Linked DNA regions of Homo sapiens: region 2 is reported to be linked to region 1. Evidence: microRNA targets listed by miRTarBase, many of them from high-throughput screens and not tested one by one. Region 1 holds a microRNA gene; the other region holds the end of a gene's coding sequence.

Evidence for each region. The annotated mature microRNA hsa-miR-6732-3p reads UAACCCUGUCCUCUCCCUCCCAG and lies in region 1 at 1,822-1,844, opposite strand. An mRNA with a match to its seed (bases 2 to 7 or 8) in the 3' UTR can be bound and repressed. Matches are read on the target gene's strand: a 7mer-m8 pairs with bases 2 to 8, a 7mer-A1 pairs with bases 2 to 7 and ends in A, and an 8mer does both.
Region 2: the mRNA of POLR3D is a reported target of hsa-miR-6732-3p. Seed matches in the 3' UTR shown: 7mer-m8 at 1,212-1,218.

Annotation. Positions count from the first base shown.
Region 1 is chr1:37,476,939-37,482,110 of GRCh38, reverse strand. MIR6732 (microRNA 6732) reads right to left here and starts at 1,881; the gene lies at 1,822-1,881. It overlaps ZC3H12A (zinc finger CCCH-type containing 12A), which reads right to left. Exons shown (of 6, transcript NM_025079.3): 3 at 1,682-1,821; 4 at 276-510. RefSeq lists enhancers at 1,533-2,359, 2,129-2,423, 2,197-2,736, 2,360-3,186, 4,577-4,876.
Region 2 is chr8:22,249,860-22,254,859 of GRCh38, forward strand. It overlaps POLR3D (RNA polymerase III subunit D), which reads left to right. Exons shown (of 9, transcript NM_001722.3): 8 at 216-368; 9 at 537-4,742. The coding sequence ends at 659. PIWIL2-DT (PIWIL2 divergent transcript) reads right to left here. Exons shown (of 2, transcript NR_134293.1): 2 at 4,717-5,000. Among named protein-coding and RNA genes, the nearest start is that of POLR3D, 7.2 kb to the left of the region's middle.

The sequences.
Region 1 (5,172 bases):
GAACCATCAACCACATACATCCCCTCATAAGTGCTACGGCTCTATCTCCCAAATTAGCCACTCTCTCCACCCCACAGCCTGCCTGGTCCCGGTCTGATTTCTCCTATGTGGTGAGCTATCCGTCTCACTCTCAAAGCTGCCTGGAGCCAAGACCCGCAACCTCCCATGGCCACAGGGCCCCGCAGAGCCCAGCCCCCAGCTCCACCCTTGCCAAGGGCACCTCTGGCTTCCCCTGTGGACCCCAAGTCTGTCAGGGCCTCTGGGAGGGAACATACTTGTCATTGACGAAGGAGTACATGAGCAGCCGCTCCTCGATGAAGCGCTTCCACTCCTGCCGCTCGCCTTGGAGGTCACGGTATGTGTCGTTGGAAACCACGATCCCGTCAGACTCGTAGGCCAGCTTCACAATGAATCTGTCGTCATAGCACACCACCCGCTTGCCACCCACGCGTCGTGATGGTGTGAACACCAGGATCTTCTTCTTCTCCAGTTCCCGCAGGATGTGCTGGTCTGGGAGGTGACGGGTGCACACAGGTCAGGGCCCAGCGGGACCTAGAGCCAGGCCTACAGGGCTCCCTAACCTGCTGATGGCCACACACAGGAGTGGTTAACGCCAAGGTCACCGGGGCAAGAACTAACTCTGCTGAGGCCTCTTCCATGCCCCAGCCCCTCCCTTGGCGTGGCACAGTTTGCTGCCTGAAGACCAAGAACATCTGAACACAGGCGGCAGGGCCTGCATGGCAGAGGCTCCAAGCACAGAGCTGGCCTTGTTCCTTTTCTCCTTCTGGACATCAGGCCTGTTCAAGCCAGATGTGGTCTTGGCTTTGGCTTTCATCCAGCCTGTTCTGAGGGGTCCGTGAATGAGCCGCAGCTTGCTCTGGGGTGGGAGAAGTATCTTGGCTCTGTCCCTTGCATTGCCAGGACAAGGTCGCTAAATCCCATGGTGGGAAAAGGTCAGGCCACTCACCATGCCCCACCTGGGGAGCTGCTGGGACCACAGGGACACAGAAGTGTGCAAGTGGAAAGGGCCCCTCTTCCTGGAGCCTACAGTCCCAGACAGGCTGCCCCCAGATCTCAAGACTTCTAGAGAAACTGATTCAGTTTTTACCTCCAAAGGCTGGGGGCTCTTGCAAGAACAGTGGTAACAGCTAACATACACTGAGCATCTACCATGTGCCAGGTACTCTTCTCAGCACTTACCGTGTGTTAACTTATATGACCTCACGAGGAAGGCAATGCTGTCAACACCCCCTGCTGACACCGACCCCATGTTTCAGATGAGGAGCATGTGGCTCAGAGCAGGGCTAAGAGGGGTCCCTGTCCAGGCCAGGGCGCCAAGAGGGGACAGAGCCAGGATTCCAACTCTGGCTGTCTCGACTCAGAGCCCACAGGCTTAACCACTATGTGATACTGCGCTTCTGCCACTGGGGATGTTGAAAGAGCGACCTGCCCACCAGTAGGATGAGGGAGGGGCTCCAGATCTGAGGCAGAAGACTGGACAAGGTGACCTCCAATGACCACCATTCAGAGCAGGTTGCTAAGGACAGAAAAAACTGAGAAAAGAAATGCTGGTCCCTGCTTGAGTTCTAGAAGTTGTAGGTCACTCCCAGAGGGTCTCTCTTGGGGAGAACCAGGGCTGCTGGGGCAGTAAGACCATCCCACCTCCAGAGGCACCACTCACCTGTGATGGGCACGTCGGGCCGAGGCTGCTCCTTCCTCCAGGATGGCACAAACACTGTGATGTCTGTGTGGCCCCGCTCCAGAAACCAGTTCACTGCCAGCAGGATGCCCCGGCAGGAGAAGACCTCCTTGTTCCCATGGCTGGGAGGGAGAGGACAGGGTTAGCCCACACTGATGGCCAGCCTGCCACCCCCTAGGCCTGAGCAGGAGGAGGGAGGTGGTCACACCCCACCCCTGCCCTGGCTTTGGTGGTGGTAGTGAGCAGTCCCTTCCCCTTTGGAGTCACCAGCCCCTTCCCCTTTCCCCAGGGCTCAGGCCCTGGCCCTCTGCAGGTGGGGCCCAAGGCCAAGGCCTCCATTCCCAGTGCCAGTTCCCACAGCTCCAGGATGGCCAGGCCCCGCTGGGACTTTCCCTGAGGCTCCATCTCCTGAAAGTGAGGAAGCGCCCAGGAAGCTGGCAGCACTGCTCCCCACGGTGGGGGAGGGCCAGGCCACTTGCAACACACCTGGGGGTGGGGGAAAGGTGCCGCGAGACTTCTGGTTCCTGCCCCACCCGGCGAGCTGCCGGGACCACAGGGACAGATGTACACATGCACACTGAGTCACCACCCCTCCCTCGCCTCTTGCAGCGTGGGTGGGGGCGGGGGAAGCACCGGCTGGGCTGACCGAGGAGAAACCAGATTGTTCCGGATTAAAGTTCAGTCCTCACACACACCTCAGGGACTGGGGCCTGAGAAAGGCAAAGGGGAAGGGGCTGGCGACTCCAGCCTTCAGCATGGGACAGAAAGCGCCGGAGTGAAGCAAGTTCCCCAGGAGCCTTTCAGTCTGAAAGTGAAAGGATACTGCTTTTCCTCCCAAGATGGCAATTCCCCCAAATGCCTCTTCACCCCAAGGCAGAAAGACCATCAGGAAGATGCTAGGGGACTCTTAGCAAGGACAGCTGAGTAAGGCATGGGCCCTGCCTTGGTCTCAGACGAGGCCGCGCCCCACCCACAGGTGGCTGCACCCAGAAGGAAGCCTGGCAGGGCTCCTGGGCTGCCGCAGCTCTCCGTTCCTCTATCTGAAAATGGGCCCAGCAGTCTGCAGCTTCCTTAAGAGGGGTCAGTCAGTGGGACAGCTTTCCTGGTGGCTTCAGGCCAAAGATGGCCCTGCAAAGTAGGGGTTCCAACTGGATTTCCTGAGGGATGGGGGACTGGGGCTTGGGGCTCCCAGGTAACACTAGGTGTCATGGAAGAGCTCCTAGGACCAGCAGCCCCACGTCTCACTGCCCCCTCAGTGAACAGCTTAGACTCTCGTATTTGGCAAATAAAACAGAATAAATGTTACGCAAAAGAGGCAAGTCCAGGGCCAACCACATCCTGTGGGTGTCTTTAATGGGAGTGGGGGAGGTAAGGGGTGATAGCTGGAGCCCTAAGAGAAGCTAGGGAGGGAGGTGGGGCAGCTGGGGGCCATGGAGGCTATTTGGGGGCAAGACTGGGGCACCAGGGTCTGAAGGTCTCTAAATTGTAGGGGAGACAAAGTCCAGCCCAGGGCAGCACTCATCCTTCCCGGTCCCTCTGCCACATCTGCCAGCCTGCTTATAATAAAAGTTCCCATTTGCTGAGAGCTGTGAACCAGGCCCTGTTATAAGTGTCTAACACTGAATCATCAGCAAGCTTGTGAGGAGGGCACTATACCATCATCAACTCCTTCCCTGTTTTTCAGATGAAAACTGTGGTCCAGAGAAGGCAGCTTAGTCACCAGGGTCACACAGCAGTTAACGGTGGAAGAGAGACGCAAGCCCAGGGCCTATGCTTATCACTACCCTGTACGTCAATGCTCAGGCAGGTACGAAGGCAGGCACAGACCCTGATCGCAGGGAATGAGCAGGGATTCGCAGGCACTGAGCTCCCGCTGGTGGCCAGATATATGGCTTCATTCTTATAGGGCTTGCTACCGTGAAGGAAAGGAAGGTCACCTGGCTAGTGGTAAGAGACAGTCAGAACTCGAACCCAGGTCTGGGCCACTCGGTTGCCTTCCTGTCTCTAACAGAAGATCCAGAATTTATTTGGGAGAACAAAGCTCCCAAAATTGAGTTTGAACAAAGTGTGTTATGAGAGACAGGTGGCGAACGGGAGAAACAATGCTGCTGGCAAACTCCTGCTCTTCCTTCAGAACCCTTGTGAGATGTCACTGCCTCTGAGAAGCCTTCCCTGACCTGCCACAATAGGTCAGGTCCCTGGTCTGTGTCTTCACAATGCCCAGTGCTTCCCCCATCACATCACCCCCCTTCCTTGGGCCTTCTGGCCTGCCTCTCAAAACCATGGCAGCTGGGTCATCCCAGGCCTGGCTCCTTGTCTCAGGTATGCAGTGTGCGCATGTATCCGCCCACCTGCCTCCCTCCGGGCACATGATCCTAGGCTAGTATCTTGGAGCACTGGGAACTAATGGGATGCCAGGGCTCTCAGGGCAGTGCACTGCCTGTGGGCACTGAAAATCTTGGCTGGGACAAGTCGGTTCTCAGCAGCCCTAGCACCTGAATATTCCCTCAGCAGATGGAAAAACTGATCAGTGGGCGCTATCAGAGCCCTCCTCCTGGTAGAGCACATGAGGCCTGGAGTGCCCCCCTACAGCTAGCTTTAGTCTCTTTCACTGCACTGGAGGAAGCGCTGCTGGCACAGGAAAACCAGACATCCCTGCCCCCATTCCAGTTCTCTTTGCCTGTAAGGTCAGGGTCCCCCAGCCGGGCTAAGCAGACACTGATAGGATGTGTGTGTAGAAGACTCCAGCTAGGCTGCTCCTGCCCCAGGACAGAAGGCAGGGCTGGGCCAGCCTCCCCAGGTGAAAAGATATGCCTGGGCTGGGCCTGGCGAGTGGAAAAAAATTCCCTTAGAAGGAAACAGAGGTGAATTTCCCCATGATTTGCATATGATGGGGGGGCTAGCCCGCCTGCCCCTGGGGAGGGGGGGTGGCCGGGCAGGAACCGAGTAGCAGCTGAGACAGGAAGTTTGAGGCTGGAATTCCCCTCCTGCCACTACCCCAGCTCAGAAACCCCCGAGGTGGGTGCGTGGCTCTGCTTCTCAGGAGCAGGCTCCTCTGAGCACCCCTCATCACAGCCCCTCCTCCCATGTCCCTCCTCCTTCTGGATACAAACACATACTGCATATGGCTGCTCCCAGGGCTCAGCCGCTCCTGGCCCATACCTCCAGAGGAAGGAGTCACACAGATCCAACCTAGCTCCTAGCCCAGCTACATGAGGCTGGACACTGAGAGGGACCCCTTCTAATCTCGAAGCATGGGCTGTGACCTGCTGCCTCTTGGCATGGAAACTGGATTTTCTCAGCCTCCCATCCAGGCTCAGCCCAAGTCAGAGAGAGGAAGACTGGCCTGAAGGTGACAGAAGGAGGGAAGAGCACTCAGCTGCATGCCTGCTGAGCTGGGCCAGGGCCAGCTGGACAGTGAACTTGTCCCACAGGGGCCACAAATTAGGGAGGGCAGAGGCTGATGTCATGCC
Region 2 (5,000 bases), not on the chromosome of region 1:
TCAGCTTCAGCAGTAACTGATATTTTGTCCGTGTATGTATTTGTTTGCTGTGGGTTTTGTATTTTAACCATAGCAGACAGCCCTAGGAGAAGGCACTCTTTGGGGAGCTCATTTTGACCTTTGCTGTGCCTTTCTCTTGGGGAGTAGAAGGGGGTTCATGAAAGATGGAGGAAAGAGCTCCTAGCCCAGTGTCCATCCTCTGGTTTTCTCCGCAGGAAGCCAAATTGGCAGAGAATGCTTGTACCCTGGCTGACCTGACAGAGGGTCAGGTTGGCAAGCTACTCATCCGCAAGTCTGGAAGGGTGCAACTCCTCTTGGGCAAGGTGACTCTGGACGTGACCATGGGAACTGCCTGCTCCTTCCTGCAGGTAAGAGCCTCCTTAGGGGCAAGGAGGGACCCTTTCAGGAGTGAAGGAGGATTGAAGAGCCACTGCTAAATAAGGGAGGGGGTTTCTGGGAGTATCATGTCCCCATTCACAGCTCTACACGCCGGGCACGTGGTGGTGGTTCTCATCACTGTCTCTGTTAATTGGCAGGAGCTGGTGTCCGTGGGCCTTGGAGACAGTAGGACAGGGGAGATGACAGTCCTGGGACACGTGAAGCACAAACTTGTATGTTCCCCTGATTTTGAATCCCTCTTGGATCACAAACACCGGTAAAATGAGCAGGTGGAGGAGGACGGCGCCTGTGCCCACGGCTGCTGCCTGCTCCAGACATTTTGTTCTTGAATCTGTGAGACCCAGAAGGGGCCCACTGAGCCCACTCACTCCAGCCTTTGGCAACCATTGTTCCAGGTCCCCCAGGGCTTCCTCCCACAGCAGCTGTGAATGGCACAGTGACCTTCCTGCAGCGTGGAGATGGCACATCCTTGCTGCTGGGGACTTGGCCCTGCTATTTATTTTTGTATTTATGTCTTAATCTCTTCCACTGATGCATCCTCCAAGGGTAGATGGGGAGGGTCTGTGTGAAGGGGCCGGCTTCTCTTGGTGCCTGCTGGGTTGCAGGGGCAGGAAGCGTGTGGACTGCAGCTTCTGCTGGTGCTCCCCCCGTCCTCCTGGAGGCAGTATAGGAGAGAGAGCAAGGATTGAGTCTGAGACTTAAGCACTCGGTCCCAGCTTGCCAGTTCCTGGTTCTGTGTCCTTGGACAAACTACCTAACCTTTCTGAGCCTCCTATACCTCATCCGACACAAATGGGGATGATACCTACCTCCAGGGTTGGCGTGAGGATTCATGGGCTATTATAGATGAAAACTGCACAAGGCCAGAACCAGCAGGCACTCAATAAACGTTCATGTCCTTTTTCTCTACCTGAGTCTATTTTCAAACAAAATAGAGATTCTAAATCTCCCAGAAGCAGCGACTAGAGCTGCTCCCGTCCCCACTCTTGCCCCTTCCTGCTTTATATCCCGTCCTCACCCTGGGCCTGATGCCCTAAATTTATGGTGTCAGATTGTTCTATGCCTTTTTCTCCTGGCTCCTGTTAGCCAGGTGCCTCCTGTGTGAGTTACTGTAATAGCTGCAGGTAATAGAAAGGAAGAAGTCAGAGACCCCTCCCAGCACCCTACAAAAGCCTTTGGGGGACATGTTGGGCCCAGGACATGTTCCCTGCACTCTTTCCTTTGCAGTTAGTACTCATGTATGAGCCGAAGTCATATATTGCTAACAAAAAAACTAAATCCTTCATAAGAGAAGTTAGGGATGTATTGAATAATGGCCTCTTTGACACTTGGCCGATGATGCCCACTTCAAAAACTTTGGGTTTCAGAGGCCTGCCCGTCTCCTGTCCTAGCACTGCCAGAGCCACCTACTCAGTGTTACTTTTTTGGGTCTGTGATCCTGTTCCCTTTACCAGGTCATTGTACTGTGTTGTCCCTGGAGGAACAGCTTCTCCTCTTGTCTTGACAGTAGGGCTGGGGTTTTCCCTGGTTCAGCTGGGGAGACGTTTGCAGGTTAGAAAAAGGTCTCATGCGGCAGCGTGTGTGGCTGTTAGACGCTGATGGCACAACTTCCCTTTGCTGGCGTCGTGGCACCTGGCCTCTGGGACAGTATGAACCATAGGGGCTCAGGAAGAACCGCTTCCCCTCCACCCCCATCCCTGATTCCTAGTGGCCCCTTAGATTTTGGGTACATCTTCCTTCAGGCTCACCTTCCTTCTTTTCAAAGTTCCTCAAGCCTGTTACTCATTTGTCAAGGCTGGGCTTCTCCTACAAAGCCCTCAACCTGCCCAGCCAGCAGCTGTGAGGCTGACTGAATATTTGGTGACCATATCACCCTTTCTGGTGCTGAAGCTCATGTCAGCTCCATTGGACAGTGTTATTCTGGGCTCTTCTCACTGTAGAGGACTGGAGCAGAAAGGGTTCCTTGGAAACCTGTGCTGGGAAGCCCTGTTTGGTCTAAGGCTAAGCTTTGGTTAACTCTGGGCTCCAGCCCTTTCTTCCTTTAAATAGCTGATGCACGGCCAGCAGGTCTCCATTCTCATCCTCTCTTTCTATTCTGTTTCTTTGGTTCAGAAATACTCTTCTGCTTTTTTTGGACGAACTCAATGGCCCGATGTTAGATATTGGGTATTTTTCAATCTTCTGTTTTCTGACCCTTCCAAGAAAGTTTGAGGAAGAACATGTACTGCTTTCACGTTCATTTCGCCCATTCAGATGTCTTGGCTTGAACCTTATGACTCCGTATCAAAGTCCTCACAACCTGTCTCAGATCCCTGATGCACAAATTAGGTCTTATTAATAAGTGTGGGAAAAGAGAGGAGAGTCCACCTTCTTGGTCAGGCCCCTGAGGCATGCATTTCTACCAAGGAATATGGACAGATGACAGAGGAGAAGAGCCCAAAGCCAAATTTATACATGAGTGCAAGTGGATGCAAATTTGTTGCTCCCTGCATCTGTGTATATGCTTTCTGTTAAATACAGAAAGAAGGAACAATAGGCTTGCACACTTTTCTAACTACATGTTTAAGTGGCAGAGTCCAGGCTGTCGAGTCACGGTTGGGTTTGAATCTGACTCCACCAGTAACTTTGGTTGGAAAAAATCACTTATCCTCTTTAAGCTTGATTTTATTTATTTTATTTTATGTAAGAGTGAGACAGTAGTAGCTTAATAGGGTTGCTTTTAAATTAGAGTGAACATGAGGCATTTATTCGGTGCCAGACAGATAACTGCCTATAACAGGATGTGATCAGCACAAGTAACAGAAAATTAGCCTGACGGTGGCTTAAGCAATGGGAATGTTTATCTCACATAGCAAAAAGTCTGTAAATAGATGGTTCTAGAGTTGGGTGGAAGCCAAAATGTCATCAGGATTTCCTTGGAACCGTCTGCTTTGCCATCCTCAGTATTGCAGAATGGCTGCTCCTGCGCCAAGCATCATTCTGCAAATGATGGTGTCCACAGCCAGAGTGGACAGTAGTACAGGAGCCTTCTCATTCTGCCCTTATCCGGGAATAACCGTCAGCAGCTCCAGCAACCTCCCCCCTGTCTCTTTATAGAGTGGGGCCACGTGCCCACTCTTGGACCAGGCCCTGGCAAAGGGGGATGGGTCGACTAGTGTATCCCCTGGCACTGAGCACACTTGCCCTTGAGCTGGGGTTTTGTTAGTAGGGAGGAAGCTGGAGTGGCAGTTGGATAGACAATTCATAGTAGCTGCTGCCATGTTCAAAAAATGCTGCAATGTAAAATCATAAAGTATTCATCTAGGCATAACTTTTTAAAATATTCAGTCACCTTTTATTCTACTAAAATCAATTTTAACATTTTAGTGTATATTATTTTATTTTAGATTCAGCAGGTACATGAGCATGTTAGTTTTGTTTTGTTTTGTTTTGTTCTGTTTTGTTTTTTGAGATGGAGTCTCACTCTGTCGCCCAGTGGTGTGATCTTGGCTTACTGCAACTCTGTCTCCCAGGTTCAAGTGATCCTCCCGCCTCAGCCCCCCAGATAGCTGGGATTACAGGCACATGCCACCACACCTGGCTAATTTTTGTATTTTTAGTAGAGACGGGAGTTTCACCATGTTGGCCAGGCTGGTCTCAAACTCCTCACCTCAAGTGATCTACCTGCCTCAGCCTCCCAAGTGCTGGGATTACAGGCGTGAGCCACTGCGCCCAGCCACATGTGCGTGTTTGTGTATATTGCGTACTGGTGGGGATTGGGCTTCTGTCATACCTATCACCCAAATAGTGAACATTGTACTCAGGTAGCATTTCAACCCTTGCCCCCCCTCCCACTCACCCCCTTTTGGAGTGCCCAGTGTTTGCTATTTCCATCTTTATGTCCATAGGTACCCATTATTTAGCTCCCACTTATAAGTGAGAACATGTGCTATTTGATTTTCTGTTTCCGAGGTTAGGATAATTACCTCAAGCTCCATCCATGTGGCTGCAAAGCACATGATTTCATTGTATTTTATGACTGCTCATGTATATTATTTCAGCCTCCAAAATTTTGTATGTTATTTATAATGATATAAATTATGTGGTTTTATCGTGTACTCTATCTCACTCAGAAATACATACAATTCTTCGTTCCCAGCTACTCTGGAGCTGAGGTGGGAGGATCACTTGAGCCCAGGAGTTCAAGACCAGCCTGGGCAACATGGTGAAACCTTGTCTCTGAAAAATAAATAATACACACCCACATGCACACACATCCAGTTCTTCCATGTTAATGAGTATGTTGTGTTTCACATACTTCTGAATTAGCCGAAGGAATTAAAGGTAGCATCTTTTAATCCTCAGACTGCCCTGCGTGGTCCGATTGAATTGGGCAGTCAGCACTAGGCTCTTCAAAGGGAAACAGGCTTCTTTCTTAGGACGGTGCACAGTGAAAGAGTGGCACACACGCTGTTCATCCAGTGCTCCAACCCCCAGTCCTGGTGTCAGATACTTCTACATTTGGGGCATTTCCCCTTGAGATGGCTGTGGCTAGCGACACATGATGTGAACACCTCTCTTGGATTGTGGTTCGGCCGCACAAGGCCCCATCAGAGTTCTAC